Linked DNA regions of Homo sapiens. The protein of the gene in region 2 interacts with the protein of the main gene of each other region in a pairwise test. Each region holds a gene or a part of one and is shown on either strand. Other genes may lie near its edges. The genes, in order: ERGIC1, KLF11, LOXL4, OIP5, TXNDC9, KAZALD1 and ZXDC.

Region 1 (3,780 bases), on a different chromosome or scaffold from region 2:
TGGACCCAGGAGGCAAGACTATAGGCAGGGAGGTGAGGGAAGGGCCCAGACCGAGGCAGGTGGAGGGGAGAGGAGCAGCGGTCTCGCATTGCCACGTGCAGGGGCAAAACAGAAGGACACAGAAACTACAGTCCCAAGTTTAGTCATTAGTGGGGTGGAAATCTGATTTTTTTAAAAAAATGTACAGAACTTAGCTTAGGGCCCATCCATCCATTCATTTTCTGTCCATCCATCTAGTCAACAAATATTTACAAAGTACCTACCGTGTCCAGGCCTTGCATACCTTGGTGAGGACAAACATGGTCCCTGCCCACCTGGAGCTTCCAGTCTAGGGGGGAAGACAGATGTTGATCAAATAATGGTACAGGCCAGGTGCGGTGGCTCACTCCTGTAATCCCAGCACTTTGGGAGGCTGAAGCGGGCGAACTGCTTGAGGTCAGAAGTTTGAGACCAGCCTTGCCAACATGGTGAAACTCTGTCTCTACTAAAAATACAAAAATTAGCCGGGCGTGGTGGCAGGCACCTGTGATCCCAGCTACTCAGGAGGCTGAGGCAGGAGAATCACTTGAACCTGGGAGGTGGAGATTGCAGTGAGCTGGTATCATGCCACTGCACTCCAGCCTGGGAGAAAGAGTAAGACTCCTCCCAAAAAAAGAAAAAATAAAAATAAAAATAAATGGTACAAATAAATGTGAGATAAAGCCATGTCACATGACAATGGAAGAGAACATTCTAGCCTTCTTGTCTCTGTAACCACCGTTCTCATGGGTTAGAAATGAAGCCTTCACACGGTCAGTCTCAAGACAGCAAATAGACAAACTTCCTTTTCCTTGTTGAGAAATTGCAGTTCCTTCCAGTTGTTGAGGAATTGCTTGTTGAGAACATGCAGGTGTGTTAAGTGCTCAGTAAACATCAGCCGCCTGAGACCAGGATCAGGGATTATGCCACCCCGCTGCTGCCCACTGCTCCTGGAGTGGCCACAGAATCATGTCCCCACGTACCTCTCCGATGTCTCCTCCTTCCTTCTATTCAAACACCTCACTCTCCTTCCTCCTGGGGGCCACGTGGGCCTGTCTCCATACTTAAGCCTTTGTACATGCTGCTTGCCAGTTTAACTTCCCACTTTCCTCCAGATCTTGGTGTCAATGTCATTTCCTCCAGGAAGGCCTCCAGGGTGTCTAGCTCGATAACCCCTGTTAACCATGCCCATGGTAGCATGCTCCATTTACCAGGTATGCCTTGTCCTTCTTTAGATGTTCCTTGAGGCCAACCTGGTTTCCCATTGTCCTCAGAGAAAAGGTGAGATGTGGTTTTCAGCCCTACTCTACAGCAGCCCACCCCACTGCCCGGAGGAGGGTTTTCTTCACATCTGCTATACGTTCTCTGCAGCAGACATGATGGGGGGCCCACAGCTCTGGGGCATCCCTGCCTGGACTCCTCTATGGGCCTTTCAGAGGACCCTGGGATCTCAGGAGAAACTTTCTGGGACCCAGAATCCATGTTCACTTGAATTTTCTGTGTGACTTCATGGAAAGAGTCCAGCTTAGTGTCAGACAGACCTGATTTCAGAGTTTAGCTTAGCCACTTACCAGCCGGGCAAGTTTTGGTGTCTTTCCAAGCCTTGATTTGCTCTTCTGTAAAATGGGCCCAATAATACATCATTAGGGGCATGAAATGAAATTATATGAAGGGGCCAGGATGGAGCAGCACATAGTAGGGGCTAGAGATGGGAAACAAGCTTGTGCCTACTATGTGCCAGGCCCCTGCTGCCTCTTGCTCCCCACAAATCCGCTGGAGCCCCCTTTTACACATTGGTAGGGTTCCTAGACCAGGTGGTACCTGGCCATCCCCCACAACCAGGGCCAGGCCTGGAGGTGGAGGTGTCCTGGGGACCATCCCCTCACTGCATTTTTCCACAGGTCCAGAACATCCACGGAGCTTTCAATGCTCTCGGGGGAGCAGACAGACTCACCTCCAACCGTATGTATCCCTGCTGGGAACAGCCTTCTGCTCCAAGATGCCCAGTACAGCAGGCAGGGAGGGGGAGGGCAGAGAGGTGGGGGTGCCTGTCCAGCACCCACTCCAAGGCAGGGAGGCTGCTGCTCACACTCCATTCCCACAGCTAACCAGTGGGAAGGTGGACCCAGCCCCGTCCAGACCCAGACCCTGATGGAGAAGGAAGAAGGCTTGTCCCGGGGCACAGCAGACGCACGCACGCAGTGGATACCAGCTATTACCATTATTGTTGCTCTCATCACAGCCACATCATCATCCTTAGTTGAACTAATTACCTAAGATCCCACAGGGAGCTATGGCAGAACCAGGATCTGTTCTGCCTCCAGGTCGCACCGTGAGAACAGGTCTGTGGGTGGCCCAGTCAGCTGTGACCACATGGCTGCCTCCCCCACACCTCACTCTCCTCCTGCTCAGACTCCTCCCATCGATAGTGGCTCCTCCTAGAGTCCTCGCCCTCCTTAGCTCCCTGGCACCTTGGCCCAGATCAAAGAGAACCGCACATCTCCACACGCAGACAGGAGAGCACGCATACCTTTCGTGCACACCAACACACATGAGCTCACATGGCCCCAGACACGTGCACAGAATGGGCCCGGGAGGCCTGTGTGCTCAAGCAGACCTGCAGACCCACTGCTGCACAGGGTACCTGGATTTTTCTTATTTCCTCACCTGAGCTCACCTTTTAACCCACATCTTTTCTTATTATTTCCTGAAATGCGTTTGCTCTCCCATTGTCAGGGATCCAAGGCAAAGAAAACATCCCTCTGTGACCTGCCCCCCCGACAAATCGAACCTCATTTTTCTGTGTCCCTGTGAGTCCTTGTCCATAAGCAGAACTCACTTTTCTTTTTTTCCAAGGCATGGATTGCAGTTTACCGTCTGCTTTTTGTACTTGACCTTATTACATAGCCACGATTTTCTTACTTTCCAGTTGTAATGGGAGCACAGTTGTCCATCTTGCAGCTCTGCTGTGCTTTTTTTTTTTTTTTTTTGAGACGGAGTCTTACTGTGTCACCCAGGCTGGAGTGCAGTGGCACAGTCTCGGCTCACTGCAACCTCAGCCTCCCGGGTTCAAGCAATTCTCCTGTCTCAGTCTCCCGAGCAGCTGGGATTACAGGTGCCTGCCACAATGCCCAGCTAATTTTCTGTATTTTTAGTTGAGACAGGGTTTCACCACGTTGGCCAGGCTGGTCTTGAACTCCTGACCTCAGGTGATCTGTCCCCACTCTGCTCTGCTTTTCTAAGTCATTGTCTTCTCACCGAAAGTGTCTGTCGTTTCCTGTGTTTCACTGTGGCAATAATGCCTCTGATATGTACAGGGTTGGCGCTCTGTTACCCGATTGCTTTCCAGCTGTGTCTGGTTCCCATTCATGCTGCCTCCAGCAACGGATAAGTATACGGCAGCACCTCCTTATTTGAGTGCAAATGTCTGGTTGTAATAGAGGTAGATGATTCTTGGTGTGGTGCCGTGGTCATTGTCGTTTTGTGTCATGGTAACATGTCATCCGACGTCGGCCGTCCACAAATGTCTGCAGCTACGATGGACCCTCAGCTGCTGGACAGGAAAGAGGATCAAGCTAAGAAGGCCCAGAGTGTGCAAGCAGAGAGAGGGTGTGGACAGAAAACCTTGCCTTCTCCAGGGCTAGTGGCGAAAGCTATCTCAGGCTGGCTCAAGTGGAGAGAAAAAAGCATGAGATCAAGCAATGGACAGCTGGGGAAGGGCTGGCTTTTATTTCCTCAGCTCCCAAGCTCAGTCCCTGGCAC
Region 2 (3,780 bases):
TTCTACCAAGGTAAACCAAATAAACGGTAAAACTTCATTCAGTCACCTCCAACATTTGGAAGCTGTGCTCTGGTGTAATGCAAAGTTCCCCTGGAGAGTCCCGGTGAAATGCAGAGCTCACCAAGTCAACAAGCCCATTAAAAGAGGCAGGCAGGTCAATTCCCCTCAGAAACACCCGTTCCCTGACACAGCCCCACGTCCATCTGCCATGCAAACAACCAACCCTCATTTACTGACTAGTGTCAGGCCCTTTTATCAAGCACCAGGAATATATCCAGGTGAGATATACAACTAACTAAAAAACAAAGGGAGACTATAGTAAGACCTACAATAAACCACTAGGGTCAAAGAAGGAAGATAAAGAAACAATCTAATAACTAATCCTAGGAAGGCCCTCAGAGGGTTTCAGTAAGTAGAGATGGGCAGAGGGCCAAGAGGGAAGGGTGGAAATATGGAACCAGACATAGAATGTTGGGGAGACTGTTTCTGAATGGGCAGAGGTGAGTACCTCATGGGCCAAGTTTGGCTTTATCCTCAAAGCAAGCAGCCACTCAGTAGAATGGAGTAGTAGAGTTCCTCTTATAATGTCTGAACACCAGACTGCACTTTATTCTACACGTGGAGGCTACCACGATCAGAGCAACAGAACACAAACTCACAGAACACCTGAGAAATGGTGCCCTCACCTACTGAAGCGATTGTCTATCCAGCAACACTCAGACCACTGCTGCGCAGCAGGGCAGCCACAGGTCCCATGGAGCTATTTAAACTTCAAATACTAAAAAATGTAAAATTCAGTTCCTCAGGCACACTAGCCACACACTTCAAGTGTGAGCAGCCAGTGGCTACCCTAATGGACAGACAACAAACATTTCCACCATTGCAAAAAATTATATTGGACAGAGCTGGTTAGACAACAGAGAGATCATTAGGTCAGCATAGTTTCTTGTGTGACTTACTTTAAATTAAAAACTACTCTCAGAGGTAAGAAAACTATACTCTTTTAAAAAATATTTTAGAATTTGAACTTTTCTATAGTTTGGCCAGACCTTTTCTCACATAAACATAAGTCACACTGGTAAGATACATTTACTAAATGTGAATGAATGCATGTTTTCTTTAAAAAAAAAAAAAAAAAAAAAAGGATGAAACGTCTACTGCAATGTGAACAGAAGGGGGCACTGTAAGTCACTCTAAAAGCTACCAAAAGACACAATCACAGAACTATACTACATTTTATCTTCCAGGGCGAGCGCTCTGTAGGCAAAATCCTGATGGCTGTGCAAACAATCCCACCCTTACAAGGTTGTGCGGGCTTTTCAGAACCAAAGAAAAAGCCACACTTCCACCTTCGCCAGGGGTTCTCATGATCCCCTCCCAGCCAAAGGCGGCTCAAGGTGTGCTTCCTAACCACAGGGTCTGGTGTGCCCAATGCCCCACCTGCCCCAGCGCTTACCTGTGTGAGTGCGAAGATGGGCCTTAAGGTGGGAACTTTTGAAGTAGGTCTTCCGGCAACCTGGGAAGCTGCATACATAGTTCCTCCTTCGGGAAAAGTCTACCTGAGGGACACAGTTTTGGCTAGAGGTGATGAACACTGGAGCAGGGGCAAGGGGCAACAACTTGGTATTCCCGGCAGCCATGACATTGGCTGCACAGGGGGCAGGCGGAGGGAGGGCTCCCTGGGGCAGGACCAACATCACAGCTCCCTGAGGCACAGCAGGTCCCACGAACACAGGTTGAGGCGCTGGAGCAGCCTGAGCTAGGATGGGTCTCACAGTCCCCACAGACAACTGGGGAGGGGGCTTCAAAAAAGCTGGTAACATGCTACTTTGTCCAGTCACAGGGATCATCTGGCAAAGGACAGGGGGAGCAGGGACAGAGACAGAAATCAGAGGGGTGGTTTTCCTGGGCAGGTCATTTTCATAATTCTTTGGTGAGCAAGTCTGAACTGCACCAGGCCACCCTGCCTGCTGGCCTTTGTCAGTGAGCAGCAGGCCACCAGACTTGTGCAAGCAGGGCTGACAGGACACCAAGTTAGTGCTGAGTAAACTGTCCGTGAGGTGTGTGTCCTGCAAAGTTTCAAAGTGTCCCAGAAGCTGCTCTTCTCCTTCTCTGCTGTCAGAAAGCCGGCAATCTGGAGTCTGGATGGTGGGAAAGCAGGCAGCAGGGCTCTCCCCAGTGTGTCGGATCACGCTAGTCCCCTTGGCCCTGCAGGGAGAGCTGGGCACTGGCTCCAAACCCAGCAAGCCCCTCTCCGCGCCCCCGCTCAGAGCTCTGGCCACTACGGCAGAGGACTGGAGAACATCCGTGGCTGTACATGCTTTGGAATCTGTTACTTGGGGAGAAACAGGTGTCCTTGTCGATGGCTCCACGAGATCAGGGCTCTGAGGAGGAGTTATGCACTAAAAAAAAAAGTACCATGTTAAAAGGTTGCTTTAAATTTTAAAAGGGATTTAATTCATCACAATGCTCCCAATACCTTTACACAGAATCATCTAGACACTCAGTTAACCCTGTTTTCAACATCCCAGTGGGTTTCAAGGCTGCATGAGGCACTCTGCTTTCTCAGCTTATTCCCAACGTGTTTACCTCTCCCAAACCTACACAAGAGCCCAGTGCAGGGAACTCTGAGAGGAGCTCCTGGCCGCCAGGCCCACCACTTCTGCAACCCTCCCGACAACCCACAGGCCCTTCCTATCCCTCTCCAAATCTGCTTTCTACACTCTTCTTTCAGAGCAAGCTTCCAGCCCAGGACAATCACAATTTCCACTTCTGTTAGCAACCTACAGTTCTCAGCTTCTCCAAGCTGAGATGCAATTTTTCCAAGTACTTTCACAGATGTAGCAAATTAAAAAAACAAAAAGCAAGAGTGACTTACTGCACCCAACTCACAGAACTCACATTAAGGAGTCGGCTGCCACGGGAGGGCAGAGGTGCCACCCAACGAAGGCAATCTGATGTCAAAGTACATGCTTTCTCCAGCTGCTACCGATATATTCTGACACTAGGCTGGAGAACCTAAGCTCCACCCCGAGATTCCCCTGGGGAAGTAAATTTCACTTTCTCACATTAATCTGTAGGTTTCATCCCACGGACATTAACCACGTAGCTAGCAAGGTATGATCCATCCATAGAAAGAGCACATTTTTCAGAAATGAAAGAAAAGTTTCTTTTTTTGTTCTTTTATTTTTTTTTGAGATGGGGTCTCGCGCTCTGTTGCCCAGGCTGGAGTGCAGTGGCACGATCTCGGCTCACTGCAACCTCCGCCTCCCGGGTTCAAGCGATTCTCCTACCTCAGACTCCTGAATAGCTGGGACTACAGGCGCCCGCCACCACACCCGGATAAATTTTGTACTTTTAGTAGAGATGAGGTTTCACCATGTTGGTCTGGCTGGTCTCGAACTCCTGACCTTGTGATCTGCCTGCCTGGCCCTCCCAAAGTGCTGGGATTACAGGCTTGAGCCACCATGCCTGGCCAAAGGAAGAGTTTCTACTCCTTCAGACCCACACAGAGAGGATACGCAACTTATTTGCCAGCATCCCAGGGAATCTTCTCACAAGTTCTTCAACACACTGAGTTCAGCTACTCTAGTCATTTCACAAAAACGCTCCTCCCTCCCACCTCCTCTTACCAGAGTCGATAAAGAATGGAAGTCTTTTGGTAGTTCAGGTGTGGCTGCATCCATATGCACAGTGGTGGTGACATCCCCAGAGTCAGAGACAGGCGTGAGGGGTCTTATCCGCAACAGGTCACCTTTCTGGGATCTTTGACCCCAGGAG
Region 3 (4,556 bases), on a different chromosome or scaffold from region 2:
GTAAAGTGGGGATAATAATAGTAACTACCTCATAGGATTTTTGTAAAGATTAAGTGAAGAAACATTAAATCCTTAGAAGAGCAAGCCTTCAGTAACAATGAACTATTATTATTATTATTATTATTATTATTATTATTATTATTATTATTTTTGAGACAGATTTTTGCTCTTGTCACCCAGGCTGGAGTGCAATGGCACAAACTCGACTCACTGCAACCTCCGCCTCCAGGGTTCAAGTGATTATCTTGCCTTAGCCTCCCAAGTAGCTGGGATTACAGGCATGCGCCAACATGCCCAGCTAATTTATCTGTATTTTTAGTAGAGACAGGGTTTCACCACATCAGTTCTTGAACTCCTGACCTCAGGTGATCCACCCGCCTTGGCCTCCCAAAGTGACGGGATTACCAGCGTGAGCCACTACATCGGCCAACAATGAACTATTATTAACAGCTACTGTGACAGCGACGATAGAACCGTTGGTCTAGATTGGTCCCACCTCCTCTCTGTACAAAGAAGGAAATGGAGGCCACGTCCGATCTCAACTGCAAGTCCTTGGTACTCCTCTTTGCAGCCTTCTCTAGATTTGCCCCTTTTCCCTCCACCCACACTGCAGAGCCTAGATGCTCCCCTCTCCACTCCCTGAGGCTGTGCAGGGGCTGCCTTCCCATTCTCACCTCTGCAGCTCTCCCCCTCTGACCCCTCCCACGCTTCCTTTCCAGACTGAAACACTGTCTTCTGCATGTCACTCAGAGGCTTGTGGGGGCTCCCAGCTGGCTGTCCCATGAGCAGAGTGCTCTCCATTGTTTCCCATTCCCTCCTCCGTGCTCCCTGGAGTAGGAGGTAGACAGCCAGGGACTGAGCCAAACCACTCCCCAGATGGCAAGAAAGGATGGGACAGATCGGCCTCAGGTCCCTCAGCTATTAGGACCCAGTGGTCACATGGGTCTGGGCTGAGTGACAACCACACCTTCTCTACCACCCCCAGGAGTTGGAATGCTTCTATCTCTGCCGCCAAATTGTGTCTGGAGTCAAATATTTTCCTTTCTCTGAGTCTCAGCTGAAAAACCTGTAAAATGAGGGGGTGGCACTAGACAGCCCCCCTATCCGACATGCTCTGATGGGGCCCAGGGTAGGCTGGGCAGGTCTGCTGTTTGGCTCCTGGCTGAAGTCCCTGACACACTGAGGAGGTCTTGTTACAGGCTGTGGACAGTCCCAGGCCAGCAGCTCCTTCCTCTCCAAGGGACCAACCTGAGGGCATGGGAGGGCTTCTGCTGTAGGACCCTGGGGTCTGGGCCAGGGAAGCTCCCTTCCATGAACGCTGCTGGAAGGTGGGGGGACGGCAGCGGGAACCAAGAGTTAGATGCAGGGAGAGTCCCTCTTATTGGCCTTCCTGCCCACTATAGGCCCCCGAGAGCTTTTGCTCACACCAGACTATAGCCTTCGTCTCCCAGCCTCCAAGCCTTTGCTCTCACTGTTCCTTTCCCTCTATCTAAGACTGTTAAACTCCTACACATCCCACAAGGCCAGCTCAAATGCCACCCCCTCCATTAAGCCCTCCCACAAAGCCTTCCACAAAGCACATTGTGTGTTTGCTTCCTGACCCCACAACCAGACTCCACCTGTCTGTTCCCCTAGCACTGAGCACAGAGGACCAAGCTGTGCATCCTCCCTCAGAGAAGGAAGCGGCCTCGAAAGTGGCCGTTACTTTCCCAAATAAAGGAGAAGGGGACAGAAGAGGGAAGGAAGGTGGAAGGGAAAGAGGAGGGGAGGGAAGTGAGGATAATAACTATACATTTTAAAATACGGATTAAATACTTATCTCCATTTTACAGATGAGAAGGTAAGGTCCAGGGAAGTCAAGTAACTTGCCCAGCCAGGATTCAAACCCAAGCAGCCTGGCTAGACGCCGGACTCTCAAAACCACCAAGAATGGATGTTGGAAGAGGGGGAGGAGGAAAGGAAGGCCGGGAGCCGACTGAAATTCCACCCTGTTCTGGTGGATTTATGACCCAGGCCGTGGTGTGAGGGCACTGGGCAGGGTGCTCTTCGCTGAATGCCGAGTGACAGATCCAAGATCTTGCCAGCTTGAGGCACAGAGGCACCTGCTCCAGGTGTGCCAGGAGATGCTGGGACCTGGCCTGACCTAGCGCAGGTAGGGAGGGCTGAAGACAGCAAATGCCCGAGTATTCAAGAGAGAGCATGGGGGGTGCTGTCCTGAGGGTGCAGCAACTTTAGGATGGCTCATCCCTTCTCTGCCGTTGGGCAGCTCTTCTCAGCAGCCTCCTCTCAGCCCTGTAGCCTCCCCGGGGTTACTGACTCTGTGGACCTGAAGCAGTGCCAACAAATGGTCTCTGAGCTGTACCTGTCCAGGCTAGGAAAGAGGGGGCTTGAAGTCTTCTGCCCCCTTCCCTTCGGTGTTTCTGTCACACGCCGACCCCCCAACATAATCAGCTCCGGTCTGGATAGTTGGAGAGCCCAGATCAGCCCTGGTTCGTTGTCCCCCAAGTCGTAAGTGTGACATCTGAACCCGCCTTGCCCCTTCCCTGTCTCCTCCCTGGAAGAAGGCAGAGCAATGGTTACACACGGCGTGTACACAAACAAGACACGCAGGCACCCCTGAGGCCTGGGCGCACCACTCAGGGCGGGCCTTGGGCCAAGCTCCCCAGCGTGGTCACTTGTCCAGTTGGAAGCAGGTTGGTGAGCGACTGGAGGGCCGGGCTGAGGGTCCAAGGGATCCCCCATGCACCCTAGGCCCAGTCTCCAGGAACCCTCAGAGGCCTGCAGACTCACAGAGAGACAGAAGGACAGATGGGACAGCAAGAGGCAGACCAAGAGGCAGACGCGCGGCCAGGCGGGGGCTCACCAGATGGAGCGCGGACAGTCCGGGGCTGGGCGGGCGCCGCGGCGGAGCAGCGCTAACGGGCTCCCTCCCCGGGCGCCCTGGGGCCTTTTTATCCGCCTCCCGCCCGCGGCCCCCCAGCCCCGAGCTGGCCGCGGAGGAGGCCCCGCAGGCCCCGCCCCGGGCGGGCCTGGAGTCCGCGGGCGCCCCGCCCGGCCTTCCGCGCGGCGCCCCCCGTCGGGACACAGGCCAGGTGGCGGGGGCGCCCAGCCGCAGCCGGCGGGGCCGGGAAGTCCCGGGGGGCGGGGGGAGCGGGGGGGCGGCGGGGGGTCGCGGGGAGCGGAGCTCTCGGGAAAGGGCGGCGCTGGGCCCGCGGCTGTTTTGCAGGGAGGGCCGCGGCGGCCTCGGGAGTCCCTCTCCCAGGCAGTTTCCTCTTTTGCAGAACAAGGTAATGACGCCCACCTAGAGTCCCAGTCTGTGAGTCCTGGTGGGTGCCAGGGCCCCCGGCACAGCACCCTTCGCACGGGAGCGCCCGGCTGTCACAGGGGCCGAATCTCACGAGCTCGGTCACTTAGGACAATGTAGACGCCCTTTCTGGGAGGCCGGGGCTCAGTTCAGAGAGGTCGAGGTGGCGCGGTGCAGCGGTGCTCTCCTGCAGGAACAGGCGAGTCACCCAGAGTTTACTGAATACCGCCCCCCCCCCCCCCCCCGCCCTCCGTGTGAAACTCTGCGCTGCCCATTGTGCAGCTGGGAACACTGAGCCCCAGGCGACATAACTTGCTCCTCCAGGCAATACACAGTGAATGGGAGAACCCCTTCACAGAGCTGAATGATGCAGTCCTGGCCCTTGTCAGACTCACGGGAGGAGGGTGTTAGTGCAGGGAGCAGGGACTGTAGAATTAAAGAAATGTGGACATGGCTGACAGAGAGGAGTCCCATCAGCTGAACTGAGCACCTAGGTGCCTGAACCCCAGTCCAAGCCCCCAGTTTCTTTCCCCTAGACCTGGTCCTGCCCTTAGCCTCACTGGCCCCATCTGTAAAATGGGCAGAGGGTTCCAGCCTCCCGGTTTCCTCCCTAGGCCCACAGCTGCCCAACCTGGTTCCCCCTCTTGCCCCCACCTTGCCTAAACGTCCTTCCAAAGGTTCATTCATCCCACAAGCCTTTATTGATTTTCTCCTACATGCTAGACAGGGTGCTGGAGTGCTAGACGCTGGAGGGGGCCTTCCCAGTCTGGTGGGGGAGGCAGATGTGCAAGTAAGAATAAGCCTGGACAGGCAGAGTGTGATAGAGCTAGGATGTCAAGATGGACCTTTTCGATCCTGGGTGACAGCCAGGTCTTAATGACCCTGCTGCCAGGGACCTGCCATCCACTCCTGGCTGCCCGTGTCCAAGATGTCCCCCCAGTGCCCCTGCCCCACCCCAGCTGGGCCCAAAACATTCCCCATGATGAATCAGCAGGAAAGAATGCTCCCAGCCTCGGGTCAGTGGCAGCAGCCCAGCTCCTCCCCCAGGGACAATGAGGCAGCTGTGGGCTTGGGTGCCAGGTATGCCTAAGCCCTCTCCTAGGGCCCAGCCACCTCTCATGCTGAGCCAGAAGCAACACAGAGGGTTCGGAAACGTGGGCTCTGCCTGCTGCCAATCACTCACCAGGCCTGGCTGCCCAGAACTAAAAATACCCTGGAGCGCAGGGGCGGGCGGAGGATAGAGACCAGGGAA
Region 4 (3,780 bases), on a different chromosome or scaffold from region 2:
GTGACAGAACAAGACTCTGTCTCAAAAAAAAAAAAAAGAAAAAAGACAAAGTGTTTGTACCAAAAAGATGCTAAAGTCAGGCACTGTCTTTGACAAAAAGATAGCAGTGGGCCAGGTGTGATGGCTCGCGCCTGTAATGCCAATGCTTTGTGAGGCCAAGGTGGGAGGACTGCTTGAGGGCAGGAGTTCAAGACCTCCATGGGCAATATAGTGAGACTCCTGTTTTTTTTTTATACAAAATTTTAAAAAATTAGCTGGATGTGGCGGCGTGCCCCTATAGTCCCAGTTACTTGGGAGGCTGAGGTGGGAGGATCACCTGAGCCCAGGAGTTCAAGGTTACATTTTGCTGTGATCATACCACTGCATTCCACTTTGGGTGACAAAAAAAAAAAAAAGCAGTGGGACCAAAATATAATCTTATAACATTATGATTATCTTCCATGTCTTATCATACCATATCTTAAAAGTCATACCATGGGAAAATTCAGAGGGTATTCTTTCATTAAAGAAACTTGTTGCCAGATGTGGTGGTGTGTGCCTGTAATTCTAGCTACCCAGGAGGCTGAGGCAGGAGGATCACTTGAATCTTGGTGTTTGAGACCAGCCTAGGCAACATGGTGAAGCCTCCCATCTCAAACTGCTCCCTTATGGGCCGGGTGCAGTGGCTCACGCCTGTAATCCCAGCACTTTGGGAGGCTGAGGTCGGGGGTTCACCTGAGGTCAGGAGTTCGAGACCAGCTTGGCCAACATGGTGGAACCCCATCTCCATTTAAAATACGAAAATAAGCCAAGTGTGGTGGCACACGCCTGTGGTCGCAGCTACTCGGGAGGTGAGGCAGAAGAATTGCTTGAACCCAGGAGGCGGAGGTTGCAGTGAGCCAAGATCAAGCCACTGCACTTCAGCCTGGGTGACAGAGCTAGACTCTGTCTCAGAAAAAATAAAAATAAATAAAAGATAAAAAGAACATTCTAGAAGGCAAGCTTTTGCAAAATAATGTTGCAGTAGATACCTTTTGGGTTTGTGCCCAGCCTCTCTCTCCCTCTAATAGGTGGGGCCTTGTATATTTGTATCATGTGTGATTTGTATCATGTGTGATTCCCACTCCCAGGTACTGGATCAAGAATGAATACCTGGCCAGGCATGGTGGGTCATGCCTGTAATCTCAGCACTTTGGAAGGCTGAGTTGGAGGATTGTTTGAGCTTAGGAGTTTGAGACCAGCCTAGGCAACATAGCAAGACTCTGTCTCTACAAAAAATTTAAAATATTAACTGTGTATGGTGGTGTATGCCTGTAGTCCTAGCTACTCTGGAGGCTAAGGTGGGAGGATAGCTACAGCCCAGGAGTTCAAGGTTACAGTGAGCTATGATTGTGTCACTGTATTCTAGCATGGGGAGCAGAGCAAGACCCTGTCTCTTAAAAACCAAAAACGGTGCTGGGCGTGGTAGCTCACGCCTGTAACCCCAGTACTTTGGGAGGCCGAGGTGGGCAGATCATGAGGTCAGGAGATCGAGATCATCCTGGCCAACATGGGAAACCCCGTCTCTACTAAAAATACAAAAAAAATTAGCTGGGCATGGTGGCGCATGCCTGTAATCCTAGCTACTTGGGAGGCTGAGGCAGGAGAATCACTTGAACCGGGGAGTCAGAGGTTGCAGTGAACCAAGATCGCGCCACTGCACTCCAGCCTGGCAACAGAGCGAGACTCTGTCTCAAAAAAAAAAAAAAAAAGAAAAATGGATACCTGACCCAAACTAAGCCAACCAGTTTTCTACCTTAGGAATTTGAAACAAGGGCCCAGAAATACCAGTTACGTGTAGATAGTACTAGTGTTGAAGTTTGGAAGTGAAAGCTCTATGTATGGGATAGCTATTTCCCATGTGATGCATGTAGCTGCAGGGAAGTCTTCTCTGCAGTAAAACATGAAGCAGACACAGAGAAAAGTAAAAATAATGATCATGTAGCCTCATAGTGTCAGAAAAACTACCCTACTGGTTATCCTTTCTCATGAATTACATTGGCTATTTCATTATTTTCCTAATAAATTGCACTTTTAACTTAAGCTTTTTTACTTATTACAAGAAACTGAAACATCCTTAGAAGTCTTTCCTTGACCATTAAAAAACAAAAACAAGCATTGACAACCTAGTTTATGTAGGCATTATGCTTATATCACTGAGTTCTTAATATAGTTTAAGAAAACTAGGGCTCAAAGAGGTGGAAGAGCTGAGATTTGAGCATGTCTTAACTCAAAAGCTTATTTTCCTTTCATAAAACTAAAAGGTTTCCTTTTTCTCATGTCTTTTTTTTTTTTTTTTTTTTTGAGATGGAGTCTTGCTGTGGCGCCCAGGCTGGAGTGCAGTGACGTGATCTTGGTTCACTGTAAGCTTCACCCCCTGGGTTCACACCATTCTCCTGCCTCAGCCTCCCAAGTAGCTGGAACTACAGGCGCCCACCACCACGCTTGGCTAATTTTTTGTATTTTTAGTAGAGACGGGGTTTCACTGTGTTAGCCAGGATGGTCTCGATCTCCTTGACCTCGTGATCCGCCCGCCTTGGCCTCCTAAGGTGCTGGGATTACAGGCATGAGCCACCGCGCCCGGCCGCTTTTTCTCATTTCTTATGCTTAGATAGATGTTTTTAGCTGAGTTATGGTTGACTAAACAATAAAACTTATCAGCCAGTCCTTTACCATGGGTTGCTCACTGTGCATTAGGTATACCATTTGTTCTTCATTGCAAATTTCCAACACAAAATATATACCTGAGATCCTGAGATGGATTGATCATTCTCTTTTTTTAAAGACGGAGTCTCACTCTGTCACCCAGGCTGGAAGTGCAATGGCATGATCTCAGCTCACTGCAACCTGCACCTCCTGGGTTCAAGTGATTCTCCTGCCTGGGCTTCCCAAAATGTTAAGATTACAGGCATTAATCACCATGCCCAGCCTCAATTTTTAGATTCTTTTTTTTTTTCTTTGAGACGGAGTCTTGCTCTTTCGCCCAGGCTGGAGCTGGAGTGCAGTGGCACCATCTCGGCTCACTGCAAGCTCCGCCTCCCAGGTTCACGCCATTGTCCTGCCTCAGCCTCCCGAGTAGCTGGGACTACAGGCGCCCGCCACCATGTCTGGCTAATTTTTTTGTATTTTTAGTAGAGACGGGGTTTTACCGTGTTAGCCAGCATGGTCTTGATCTCCTGCCTTGGCCACCTAAAGTGCTGGGATTACAGGTGTGAGCCACTGCGCCACCAATTTCTAGATTCTTAAGCAATTTCTATTTAGAATTAACTTTAAAGTGGGAAAAAAAACTGTAAATGTGTGCTGTTAGTAATCCCACATCTTTTTTAGAAATCAGTACAAAAGTAAATGTTCTAGAGAAGCAATAATTGCATTTTTGTTAGGGCAGTAAGCTTTTAGTAACATATTTTTAACATAAATTTGAAAAGCATTATGGGATTTTGGTTAATTTCTTAATCTTTAAAATGAGTTGGATAAAAGGTCAGGACATTCTTTTTGATTAAGTAGAAACTTTGGCCTTTTCCTCTTGGATTCGGGATGGCTGCTGCAATTACAGTCATTACATCTATTGATGATAGCATCCTAAACATGAAGGAAAAGGATATGGAGAGTATGGGAACACAAGAAAATTCCCCCTTTTCATCAGCATAAATTTTTTTTTTTTTTTTGAGACAGAGTCTTGCTCTGTCACCCAAGTTGGAACACAGTGGTGTGATCTCAGCTCATTGCAACCTCCGCCTCCCAGGTTCAAGTGATTCTCCTGCC
Region 5 (3,780 bases), about 89 Mb from region 2:
AGATGGCTTAATAAAAGTTACTACTGGTAGGCTGGGTGCAGTGGCTCACGCTTGTAATCCTAGCACTTCGGGAGGCCGAGGCAGGCGGATCACAAGGTCAGGAGATCAAGACCATCCTGGCTAACACAGTGAAACCCCGTCTCTACTAAAAATACAAAAAATTAGCCGGGCATGGTGGCAGGCGCCTGTAGTCCCAGCTACTTGGGAGGCTGAGGCAGGAGAATGGCATGAACCAGGGAGGCGGAGCTTGCAGTGAGCCGAGCTTGTGCCACTGCACTCCAGCCTGGGGGACAGGGCAATACGCCACCTCCAAAAAAATAAAAAATAAAAAAGTTACTACTGGTATTTTTTAATTTCCTAGAAGCATAATGGCCACATTTATTTAAATATTATTAGTAACCCTTAGCCTTAATGTGCTTCTTACTGACAGCGTTGCATATTTAGGAGTAAGAAGTTTTTCCTCGGTAATGCTGTTCAGTTTTTCTTCATGACTTCCAAATATGGCACCATGTGTGCACTTCTGATTCTTGTAAGTCTCTTCCGAGTTTTGTCAAGTTTCAGTTTGTTCCTCTTCAAGTTTCCTGTGTAGGAGATAGGACAACTTCCTTTATGACTTAAAGCATATATTTAATATTTTAAAAGAGAATATCATTAATGCAAATCTGACTTTCTAGAATCTTATAGGCTGTTTTCCCATCTCGTAATCAGGCAGCTAACCTCTGATCTGGAAGTGAGGTCATCTGACACAAGTTTAAGTTGGCTGCCATGTTATGAGAGTCAACAGAAAAACTACATAATTAGATTTCCCTTGATGATATTTATTTTGAAAAAAGCGATCTGTGGTTTTAGCTTATAATTTTCTATGTGTGGTCACTTACAGGTGTAAAATACTAGACAGACATCTGGCAATATTGTCCAAGAAACACCTCGAGACCAAATTTTTGAAGCTGAATGTGGAAAAAGCACCTTTCCTTTGTGAGAGACTGCATATCAAAGTCATTCCCACACTAGCACTGCTAAAAGATGGGAAAACACAAGATTATGTTGTTGGGTTTACTGACCTAGGAAATACAGATGACTTCACCACAGAAACTTTAGAATGGAGGCTCGGTTCTTCTGACATTCTTAATTACAGGTAACTTTTAACAAAAGAAGAGATTGATTTTAATTCATATATAGTTGATATTTTTACAAAAGATTTTTGTATTGTAACATTTATTTTATGAAATTAAGGCATTTTGGCTGAGATGTGGAAAGTTTCTCAAAGGAAAAGCATGTTTTTTTGAAGTGTGTAATATTAGCGTGATTTTACGGCAAAATCAGATTTACAGATTAAACTGATTTAATAGGTAAAACTGAGTCTCACCGTACTCCTGACTATAAAAGTTTTCAGCTTAACGTATACTATTGACACTAATTTTGTATTAATCTGGAAACTTAAAATGGCAATCCAGTGTTGACTATTCCCCAATTTAAGCCAGATTGCTCAAATGAATTCTGACTTAAGTGATTCTCTTTGATAAAATAAAAATTAAAAGCAGACTCTTGCAAAGAAAGTTATATTTTAAAATACTAGATTTTTAACATGGATATTTCTGTTTTACTTATAGAGGCTGATGAATAGAAAAAGGTTTCTATGCCTAGCTTACATTGCTTGCTATGAAGAACAGTTTTAGTTTGAAAACAATCTAAAATCCAACTTCCATTTCTTTGTCCACTTCTTCAGACAAATAATTTATCTAATTCCACAAATCAGAGCATATCATCTTGTCTTTTTTGCCTTTTCTTGATTTGCAAAAGTAACAGGTAAAATTGTGCACTTACCATTCCAGAGTCATGGTGCCTTTCAGGAAGTAGAAGGTTCTCTCACGTTTTTCTTTCTCCCCCATTTCCCTCCCGTCTTTTCTCTGACTCTCCTAGACATGCCGAAATCATTCCTATGTTGTAGAAATTGGTTTCATTTCCTTAATATTAACATAAAATATTAATATTTATTAAATAAAGTTATATATTTTGAAGTAATTTTAAGCCTTAAACAAATTGCAGCCGGGTGGGGCACTTGTGTAATCTCAGAAGATTACAGACTTTGAGAGGCTGAGGTGGGAGAATCAGTTGAGGCCAGGAGTTTGAGACCAATTTGGGCAACATATAGTGAGATGAGACCTCGTCTCTACAAAAAACTAGTAGAAACAACCCCCTGCAGACTAGTACAACGAATCCTCATTGACCCTTTGCCCATATTACCCAATTTTAAACATTTTATATTTGTTTTATCATTGTCTTTATAGATACTATGAAGTATTTTGGGAACCATTTGAGTGGAAATTGTGAATACAGTGTCCCTTTACTCCTAAAGACTTCCATATATATTTTCTAAGAACAAGAACATTTTCTTACGTAGCGACAGTACAATTATTGAAACAGGAATTATTGTGTAATTTACCGCTCTTATTTCAAGTTTTCTCATTGTCCCAATAATTGTCCTTCATACCAAAAATGCAGCACATTTAGTTATTACGTCTTTAGTTACCATTGTTATTCTTTGGTTCTTAAGACTGATGTTTTTGAAGAGTACAAACTGTTTATTTTGGAGAACATCTCCCAGTTTGGGTTTGTCTTAAATTTCCTCAAGATTAGATTCAGATTATCGATTTTTGACGGGCATATTATGGAAGTGATGCATCATATCGGGAGGTGTGTGATGGTTTCTCTCATTTCCGGTGACAACTGAGCACTGTGTTAACCAAATGTTAATCCATAATTAATGATAAAAAGGAAAATAGGTCTGGTGCAGTGGCTCATACCTATAATCCCAGCACTTTGGGATGCCAAAGCAGGAGGATTGCTTGAGCCTAAGAGTTCAAGACAAGCCTGGGCAATGTAGTGAGATGTCATCACTACAAAAAATGTAAAAATTAACTGAGCATGGTGGCACACGCCTGTAGTCCAAGCTACTCGGGAGGCTGAGGTGGGAGGATCGCTTGAGCCCAGGAACTGGAGGTTGCAGTGAGCTGTGATCACACCACTGCACATCAGCCTGGGCCACAGAGTGAGACCCTGTCTCAAAAAGAAAGGAAAATAAAATTGATCTAAAACATTCAGTAGGACACAATAAGGTTTAAGGCTATTAACCATCAATATCAATATAAGCATTATACCTCTTCCCTGACACCAGCATTTTAAAGAAATTTTATTCTATGTTACAGGAAGAAAACAAAGATAGATTTTTGTGCAGTTTAGTATACTAGTACTAAATCATAAAGAATAAAATGCTTTTTTTTTTTTTTAAGTGGAAATTTAATGGAGCCACCATTTCAGAACCAAAAGAAATTTGGAACAAACTTCACAAAGCTGGAAAAGAAAACTATCCGAGGAAAGAAATATGATTCAGACTCTGATGATGATTAGAGCTCAATAATTCTTTGTAAATTGTCTTTTTTTTTCTGCTTCAGATTTAAATGTGTTTTTAAAATTCTATTAATGTCTATACATTGGTCACCTAAATACTCATATTCTCGAGTTTTATACAGTTGTATCACATCGAAAAGTGTCTTTACTGTTTTCTGTGTGGCCATCATGTTTAAGTTGAGGAAAACTCAGTTCTTAAATTATCTGGGAAGGGTCTGGATTCTCTATTTTTGAGATTGACTTTATCACAATATGATTCTTACATCTTTATACCATTTACAATTGTGTTTTAGATCTACAGAGTTAGAAATTCGAAAACTATTCCAGGACTAATTCTTAATCGGCATTATTTATACAAGAGGTCAAGTAACA
Region 6 (4,280 bases), on a different chromosome or scaffold from region 2:
ATTCTCGCGACAGTTGCGAGGCCTCGCGTGAAGTTCCCTTCTAGTCCCTATTTCGAATTTGAGACCGGGAGAGAGTGTCTGCCCTTGCCCACCTCCTCAGAACCCCTCTGGCCAGGGATGGCGCCTACGTGGCTCGGGAGCCCCTGAATGAATGGGCTTGGCCCAACTTAGGGGCGCATTCCGACGGGAGAGTCCTGGCTGTATTCCGAGGCTCCAGTGCGCATGCGGAGTCGATCCCGCGCAGGCGGGCGGGGACGGCAGCCGGGTCTTGTGGGCGGAGCCTGACTAAGTGCCGCCCCCTTGCCGGCTGCAGATTGCTATTTCTGCCCCCCACCCTCGCCCATCCCCCCGCGAGCTGGACTGCGCCAAGGCTTCTGTGAGCCGCTTGGGGCCGGCCGGGGCGGGGCCTGCCCGACCCGGGTTTGGCTGGCGGGCCCCTAGGAATGCTCTCCTCCCCGCCCCCGGCCCAAAGTGCCACGGTGGCGGTGGTGGCGGCCGCGAGGCCGAGTGTCTCCGGCCCTGCCAGCCTCGCAACCGTAACCTGTAATCCCGACCCGAGGGACGCCCGCCGGGGAGGCGCCAGCCCGCCTCTCCCTGCGGCCGCTGGTCGGCTCCGACCTCGAATCACCCGGCTCACCCGCGGGTCGCAGCACCTGCCGGATGTGGGGAGGAAGAAGGAGGCCAGATGAGGGAAGGCGGATGTAGGCGCCCAGTCTGTCCGCGCCTTGGTGGGGCAGCTGGGTGGGCAAGCCTGCGGTCGCTCCCGGGAACCAGCCCTGGGCTGCGGGGAGACGAAGGTGGTTGGTCCTGCCCTCCAGGAGCGCCCCGACATCGACGTAAAATGACTTGGCACCAGAGCTCCTGCCGCCTCCCCCTTATGCAGCTGCCCTCGCCGACGCCAGGGACTGTAAAATCAGATGGGACAGGGCCTAGCCGTTCAGCCAACACTTTGAGCTTCCCAGCCAAACTCCTACCCCCACTCCCCGCCTCCGGTCCTCACCCCCTTCCTCTCTCCCAGCCTCGGTGTCTGGTTACGGCTCCTCTGCTCGCATTGTGACTTTGGGCCAGGCTGGGGGAAATGACCCGGGAGGGTCCCATGCGGCTACATAAAATTGGCAGCCTTAGAACTAGTGGGAAGGCGGGTGCGCGAAGTCGAGGGGCGGAGAGAGGGGGCCGGAGGAGCTGCTTTCTGAATCCAAGTTCGTGGGCTCTCTCAGAAGTCCTCAGGACGGAGCAGAGGTGGCCGGCGGGCCCGGCTGACTGCGCCTCTGCTTTCTTTCCATAACCTTTTCTTTCGGACTCGAATCACGGCTGCTGCGAAGGGTCTAGTTCCGGACACTAGGTGAGCACTCTGTGCCCCAGGCCATAAGCGAGGCGGCATCAGCCCCCCCAGTTCTCACCCCCCATTAGCAGCTTCTTACTTCTGGAGCCACCCATTCTCTTTGGGCAAGGATGCTCAGGGGCCAGGGATCGGAGTCGGGTGGTGCACGGAAGTGGTGCTGGTGGTGGGTGTGCGTGCGCCTGAGCCTTATCACCCTTTCCTCACCTCTCTTCACTCCCAGCCCTCCCAAGAACAGCCCAACTGATTGCTAACTGCCATAACTGGATAATCCCTAGAGGGTCACTAGGCCTGTGTGTTGGGGGAGGCTACTTGGTAGCAGGGGAGGGGGCGATGCTAGTGTCATGCTTTGGTACAAGAAGCAGTGAGGTTGGTCTTTCGGCACAGGCCCTGTTTCTGACCTCCTGACCTGGCTTCCCTTCCTGGCAGGGTGCCCGAACGCGCTGATGCCCCGAGTGCTCGCAGGGCTTCCCGCTAACCATGCTGCCGCCGCCGCGGCCCGCAGCTGCCTTGGCGCTGCCTGTGCTCCTGCTACTGCTGGTGGTGCTGACGCCGCCCCCGACCGGCGCAAGGCCATCCCCAGGCCCAGATTACCTGCGGCGCGGCTGGATGCGGCTGCTAGCGGAGGGCGAGGGCTGCGCTCCCTGCCGGCCAGAAGAGTGCGCCGCGCCGCGGGGCTGCCTGGCGGGCAGGGTGCGCGACGCGTGCGGCTGCTGCTGGGAATGCGCCAACCTCGAGGGCCAGCTCTGCGACCTGGACCCCAGTGCTCACTTCTACGGGCACTGCGGCGAGCAGCTTGAGTGCCGGCTGGACACAGGCGGCGACCTGAGCCGCGGAGAGGTGCCGGAACCTCTGTGTGCCTGTCGTTCGCAGAGTCCGCTCTGCGGGTCCGACGGTCACACCTACTCCCAGATCTGCCGCCTGCAGGAGGCGGCCCGCGCTCGGCCCGATGCCAACCTCACTGTGGCACACCCGGGGCCCTGCGAATCGGGTACGCATGGCCCGGGGCCCCCACCCCAGCACTTAGGTTTCCTAGAGGCACTGCTCCCCGACCCCTGACAGCATTGGTCTCTGGCCAGCAGAGCAAAAAAGATAAGGCTATAGAGGCCTCGAGTCCAGTATAAAACCCTGCTCTCGCTACTGGTTCATAAAAGCTGCCACCTTAAGGTGGGGGTGGGGGGTGGAGTGGAGTGGGAGTCCCGGGCTTCGTCAGCAAGCTGCATTCGCTGAACCACGTGAAAGCTCCAGAGCTGGCTGGCAGGGAGAGACAGGTCCTCTGAGGGCGCAGGCACATAACCTATGGTTTGCTCAGAGACCCCCCCGACTTTTCCCAGACCAGTGGAGTCCAGGCAGCAAGACGGGTTCCTGTGAGATGCAATCACGTTTCATTCTTAGAGCAGTTTGTTCACCCAGTCTCCCCACCTCTCTGCTTTCTCCTGCTTTTAGGGATTAGTGAAGGGGAGCGGGAAGTTCTTTCTCTATCCCTGGGGACTGGGGTCCATTCAGGCCTCTAGCTTTCCTTGGTAGCTTTAGTAACTTTCACTTCCTGAGCCCGGGCTCTGCGTCTGGCTCGGCTGGGGCAGCCAGAAAACAAACACCCCGTGGGGGTCCCAGCAATTTCCTCCACTCCTGCAGGCTTCCTGCCTGTCGCACAAGTCCAGCTTCAGGTTCTCTGCCTTGCCGCAGGACTCCCCCAGGGGGTACTGAGGAGGGAACGGCTGCTTTTCCTCCTTTGGGAACTGGGCCTGTTTAGAAAAGGGGAAGGGGGATCTGGAAGGTTTTGATTACAGGCACGCAGGAAAGGCTGGGGAGGGTGAAATGAGGACAGGGGAGCAGTTAGGGACAGAGTGGCTGCCAAGCTACAATGTAGATGTGTGTGCTTGTTTGTGCATTGGGTCTGCATGAGGTTCTATGTGCACATGTGCATGTATACCTATCTCCACGTCTGCGTGGTACCCTTGTGTGTACCAGCATCCATATCTGTGTGTACCTGTGTGTGTCACGGTGTGTTTATGGATGTGTATTTACCTCAGCATATATTGTGTTCTGCCACAAGCATGTCCACAAAAATTTGTGTATCATGTCTTTGCCAGACTGGATGCCTTTGCTGGGCCATGCTATTCTCAGACCTCCCGCCTTCACCCCCAGGGCCCCAGATCGTGTCACATCCATATGACACTTGGAATGTGACAGGGCAGGATGTGATCTTTGGCTGTGAAGTGTTTGCCTACCCCATGGCCTCCATCGAGTGGAGGAAGGATGGCTTGGACATCCAGCTGCCAGGGGATGACCCCCACATCTCTGTGCAGGTAGACTGGTGGGAGAGGCTTCCCTCAGGCAGCCCAGGGCCCTCCAGAAGGACCCTGCTGATTCCTTGCCTGGCTCCAGTTTAGGGGTGGACCCCAGAGGTTTGAGGTGACTGGCTGGCTGCAGATCCAGGCTGTGCGTCCCAGTGATGAGGGCACTTACCGCTGCCTTGGCCGCAATGCCCTGGGTCAAGTGGAGGCCCCTGCTAGCTTGACAGTGCTCACACCTGGTAAGGGGATTCCTGAGTTCTGGGGGTTGGGGGGATGGTGCTGGATTCCAGTTGTGAATGTGTAAGAAACAGACCATGTGTCTGTATACACAAGCATAGCCTTCCGCAGACTGGGCTATGTGGGCACCGACAGCCCCTCTCTCCTGTTCTCTCTTCTTTGCCCATGTGTGTTTGCAGACCAGCTGAACTCTACAGGCATCCCCCAGCTGCGATCACTAAACCTGGTTCCTGAGGAGGAGGCTGAGAGTGAAGAGAATGACGATTACTACTAGGTCCAGAGCTCTGGCCCATGGGGGTGGGTGAGCGGCTATAGTGTTCATCCCTGCTCTTGAAAAGACCTGGAAAGGGGAGCAGGGTCCCTTCATCGACTGCTTTCATGCTGTCAGTAGGGATGATCATGGGAGG
Region 7 (3,780 bases), on a different chromosome or scaffold from region 2:
GCTTCCCTGTGAGAAACGGGAACAGTGCCAGTGCCGTCTGTTCCTTCTTCACCTCTTGGAAGGCGTCAGGCAGTGGGGTTGTGGGCGTGGCTGCCAAGCCAAGTGGCCTCTTTTGCACTCTCTGCCACTTTCTTGCCTTTGACCCTCTAATCCCTCCCATGTCTTTTGTTTTTTGAGACAGGGTCCCTCTCTGTCACCCTGACTGGAGTGCAGTGGTGTGATCATGGCTCACTGCAACCTCAGGCTCCTGCTCAAGTGATCCTCCCACCCCAGTCTCCAGAGTAGCTGAGCCCACAGGCATCCACCACCATGCCCAGCTAATTTTTGCATTTTTTATAGAGACAGGGTTTCACTATGTTGCTCAGGCTGGTTTTGAACTGCTGGCCTTAAGCAGTCTGCCCACCTCAGCCTCCCAAAGTGCTGGGATTACAGGCATGAGCCACCATGCCCTGCCCCTCCCATGTCTTTGAAATGCTTTCCTGGAAGAATGTTTCACTTTGTTGACTTTCCCTAGCATATGTCCCCTAAGCCTGTGTCTCTCACTGGGACTTTTGTCCTGAATTCTGAACCTGCCCCTCCTGTGTTTCCGTCTGCCTCAGCTATTCTATCTCCAAGTAACAAAGGCTAGAGCAGAGTTGTGTTTCAGGAGTGGACTGGGAGTAACGAGGGCTGGAGAGGGCAGGGTTAGAGAGGAAAGTGACGGTGGCCTGGTGACCTGTGAGGGGAATGCTGAGTGTGTGAGTGCCTAGTCATTGGGCAGCTTTGCAGCATGGGACTAGGAAACCTACCCCACTAGGCCTTCTCCACAGTCCAGGATACAGAAGTGCCTGGCAGCTGTGGTGGCGGCCCCTCTGGGGAGCACACCCATGTGCCCTATTCTCTGGGCCCTGGTGCGGTTGTCGCTCCTCACCGGGCCTGGCTGATGGCATCCTAGCTGGCCCTAGAGTTACTTCTGCTGCTCAGTCCGTGGAGGCTGTGTGTGTCACCAACTGGGTCCTCACGTCTCCTGTGTGACCAGCAGCACCACAGCAGAGCACCGGCTTTGGGGCGCAGCTGTGTCACAGCTGCCGCGTTGGCAAGGGACAGGCCTCCATGCCTCGCACAGAGTTTGGTGAGGGGTTGGGCTCAGGGCAGTTCTGTGGCCTTTGCTTTCTTGTGATCCTATTTAGAAGTGGTCATGAAGCCCCTCCTTGGGATCTTGGACACTGATCTTTCACAGTTTACAGCAGTTGCCGTTCAGCTTTATATTTAAATAAATTGCCCTTCTGGCTTTAGTAGTGTCTTGAGGACACGGAATGTGCGTGCCACCTGATTCATGTTGGAGGGTGTCACCTTTGCTCACAGAGGCCCACATGACCAGGCCCCTTTTCTCTGAGGGCTCTGTGAGACTACATCACTTAGGCCTCTCCCCTGTTTGGCCGTTCCCTCTCATGGCACACTTCCCCTTTCCTGACCTGGCCAATTGAGAAGTCTGCAGAGGCCCAGTGTTATACTAGATGCACTTTCCTTAAACTCTAGTGGGATGTGAGACCCTCTTCTGTAGCAACCTATGTATCCCAGGATTGAATTTCCTGTGTGACAATGACTTATTTGTGTGTCATCCCCCTGCCAGCTGTCAGGGGTAGAAGACCAGGTGTCACCCTTTCGTCTAGTGAAAAACAGGCACTCGAGAACACCCAGTTACCGTGGGATTATGTCACGCCCTCAATGGGTTGTTTCAGTCCCCCTAATGGTGGTCCTGGGAGTGGGTTCCTCACTGCTTTGTCACTGATGAAACCAAGATAGAAAGGACTTGCCAGGGTCACACCTGCAAGAAGGGCTGGGGCTGGGCTTTGAACTGTGGTGATCATGACTGTTTTGCCAGATGCTCTGCTATCTAATGTTTATTTAGTGATTGTGTTAATATCTGGCCCTTGTACATGTCTGGTCTCTGGTAGTAAATGTTTATAGAATTAGTAAAGTGCTAAGTAAGAAATTTATTAATAAGTGGGTATCATTTGCACTGAGATTATTCATGATCTCTTCACAGGGAGCTGAGTCCTCAAGAGAGTCAAGGGAATTTTTAGGAAGTTTTGAAAAACTGACATAGTTTTCCATTTTTAATTTCTCCAAAGGATCACTACCATTTTCTTTCAAAATGCTTCATTGGTACTAAGGGATATTTATTGAAGAAGTGATACTATATTGATACTTTTTTTAATCTTTAAAGTAATATGACAACTAAAGAGGATACATTCTGAATTTGATTTTCTTTTTGTCTAGAATAGACTTCTTTTGTAGATTTGCATTATTAAAAATATAAAATATAATAGACATTCTGGCCAGGTGTTCACAGCCTGCAGGTATGAGCTTGGGAACAGTAACAGCTGGCATGGGAGAAATAGGATCAGAGAACCGAGAGCAGCTTTTCCTCTGGGCCAGGTGCTGGCACAGTCAGGAAGCTGCTGGGGACAGTCCTATGGAAAGCGTGACATCAAGTCCTTATTTGGCTCTTTTGCCCAAATTAATTATGCTCCCATTTTACTGTTTGCTTGATGCTTGAAGCATCCTGTGATTTGGTGTAATTGGCATGTACTTGTATACAAACCCTAAACTTGCCTATGCATTAAAATTTTTTGGAAGTCATTATTCCCCCAAAAGTATGCTGATTATTTAAATTACGTAGTTGAATAACAAATAATCAAATATTTAAAGAGTATTATGACCAGAAATTAAGACTCCAGATGAAGAAGGGCCTGTTAGAATCATGACATGCTGCAGGCGTGGTGGCTCATACCTGTAATCCCAGCACTTTGGGAGGCCCAGGCGGGCCGATCACGAGGTCAGGAGATCGAGACCATCCTGGCTAATGCGGTGAAACCCCGTCTCTACTAAAAACACAAAAAAATTAGCCGGGCATAGTGGCGGGTGCCTGTAGTCCCAGTTACTCGGGGAGCTGAGGCAAGAGAACGGGGTGAACCCGGGAGGCGGAGCTTGCAGTGAGCCGAGATCGCGCCACTGCACTCCAGCCTGGGCGACAGAGCGAGACTCCCTCTCAAAAAAAATAATAATAATAATAATTACATGCTGCATCAGGGCTGGGCACTGTGCTGGGGGCTGAGGGGACAGTGGTGGTCAGATGGCTCTCCACCCTCAGGAGGCTTGCAGTCCTGCTGGGGAAATGTGAGGCTGGAGATGCAGTGGTAGGGGAGGCTGTGGGAGGGAAAGCCCATCAGGAAAAGCTCCGTCTAGGGGGCCCCCAGCATGCCTGGAAGTCTTGTGCATCTGCCTAGAGCTGAAGCTTTGGGTCTGTCCTGGCTTTGCCAGGCAGCCAGTTTTATTTCCTTTGTTCACCCCTATATGGCTCCAGTCGGTTTTGGGGTGGCAGCTAGTTGTGGAGTGGAGCACAGAGTTTGGCAAACATGAGCTGACAAGCTGATTCGGAAAATATCCTCAGAGCACAGGCCAGCTAGCAACTGGCAGCTGAGTGGAAAGGTTCAGTCCTCTCGGGCAGCTCCGGTGGCACCTAGAGGGGAGAGGGTGCAGGCTTTGAAGCCAGAAAGACATGGATGCAAGTCTTACTTTGCTTCTTGCTGTTACCAGTTGGCCTGACCTTAGGAAATGTTATTTAATCTCTCTCCAGTTGTTTCCCCTGGAGAAAGCCCTGTCAGCCTGAGGATCCAAGACGCGTACGTAAAGTGTCTGATTTCAGCCAGTGTCCCTTCCTGTCCCTTCCTGGGGTGTGTGTCGGTTGCCCTGAGCGACCGGCCATGGGACTCTGTCGTGATAACCAAGCTTCAG

Evidence for each region.
Region 1: the proteins of KLF11 (region 2) and ERGIC1 interact in binary tests that used the Homo sapiens proteins (3 or more experiments, as listed by UniProt).
Region 3: the proteins of KLF11 (region 2) and LOXL4 interact in binary tests that used the Homo sapiens proteins (3 or more experiments, as listed by UniProt).
Region 4: the proteins of KLF11 (region 2) and OIP5 interact in binary tests that used the Homo sapiens proteins (3 or more experiments, as listed by UniProt).
Region 5: the proteins of KLF11 (region 2) and TXNDC9 interact in binary tests that used the Homo sapiens proteins (3 or more experiments, as listed by UniProt).
Region 6: the proteins of KLF11 (region 2) and KAZALD1 interact in binary tests that used the Homo sapiens proteins (3 or more experiments, as listed by UniProt).
Region 7: the proteins of KLF11 (region 2) and ZXDC interact in binary tests that used the Homo sapiens proteins (3 or more experiments, as listed by UniProt).

The regions. Positions count from the first base shown.
Region 1 is NC_000005.10:172,924,590-172,928,369, forward strand, and holds part of ERGIC1 (endoplasmic reticulum-Golgi intermediate compartment protein 1), read left to right. Parts: intron 1-1,919; coding exon 1,920-1,980; intron 1,981-3,780. UniProt on the Homo sapiens protein: Possible role in transport between endoplasmic reticulum and Golgi.
Region 2 is NC_000002.12:10,046,272-10,050,051, reverse strand, and holds part of KLF11 (Krueppel-like factor 11), read right to left. Parts: coding exon 3,633-3,780; intron 2,403-3,632; coding exon 1,457-2,402; intron 1-1,456. UniProt on the Homo sapiens protein: Transcription factor. Activates the epsilon- and gamma-globin gene promoters and, to a much lower degree, the beta-globin gene and represses promoters containing SP1-like binding inhibiting cell growth.
Region 3 is NC_000010.11:98,265,269-98,269,824, forward strand, and holds the start of LOXL4 (lysyl oxidase homolog 4 precursor), read right to left. Parts: upstream 2,927-4,556; 5' UTR 2,864-2,926; intron 2,555-2,863; exon of another isoform or gene 2,363-2,554; intron 109-2,362; exon of another isoform or gene 1-108. UniProt on the Homo sapiens protein: Catalyzes the oxidative deamination of lysine and hydroxylysine residues in collagen and elastin, resulting in the formation of covalent cross-linkages, and the stabilization of collagen and elastin fibers.
Region 4 is NC_000015.10:41,315,332-41,319,111, reverse strand, and holds part of OIP5 (protein Mis18-beta), read left to right. Parts: intron 1-3,780. UniProt on the Homo sapiens protein: Required for recruitment of CENPA to centromeres and normal chromosome segregation during mitosis.
Region 5 is NC_000002.12:99,319,310-99,323,089, reverse strand, and holds part of TXNDC9 (thioredoxin domain-containing protein 9), read left to right. Parts: intron 1-880; coding exon 881-1,135; intron 1,136-1,306; exon of another isoform or gene 1,307-1,964; intron 1,965-3,290; coding exon 3,291-3,408; 3' UTR 3,409-3,780. UniProt on the Homo sapiens protein: Significantly diminishes the chaperonin TCP1 complex ATPase activity, thus negatively impacts protein folding, including that of actin or tubulin.
Region 6 is NC_000010.11:101,060,774-101,065,053, forward strand, and holds the start of KAZALD1 (kazal-type serine protease inhibitor domain-containing protein 1 isoform a precursor), read left to right. Parts: upstream 1-1,215; 5' UTR 1,216-1,342; intron 1,343-1,768; 5' UTR 1,769-1,819; coding exon 1,820-2,330; intron 2,331-3,432; coding exon of another isoform or gene 3,433-3,487; coding exon 3,488-3,648; intron 3,649-3,727; coding exon 3,728-3,875; intron 3,876-4,052; coding exon 4,053-4,147; 3' UTR 4,148-4,280. UniProt on the Homo sapiens protein: Involved in the proliferation of osteoblasts during bone formation and bone regeneration. Promotes matrix assembly.
Region 7 is NC_000003.12:126,462,343-126,466,122, reverse strand, and holds part of ZXDC (zinc finger protein ZXDC), read left to right. Parts: intron 1-3,780. UniProt on the Homo sapiens protein: Cooperates with CIITA to promote transcription of MHC class I and MHC class II genes.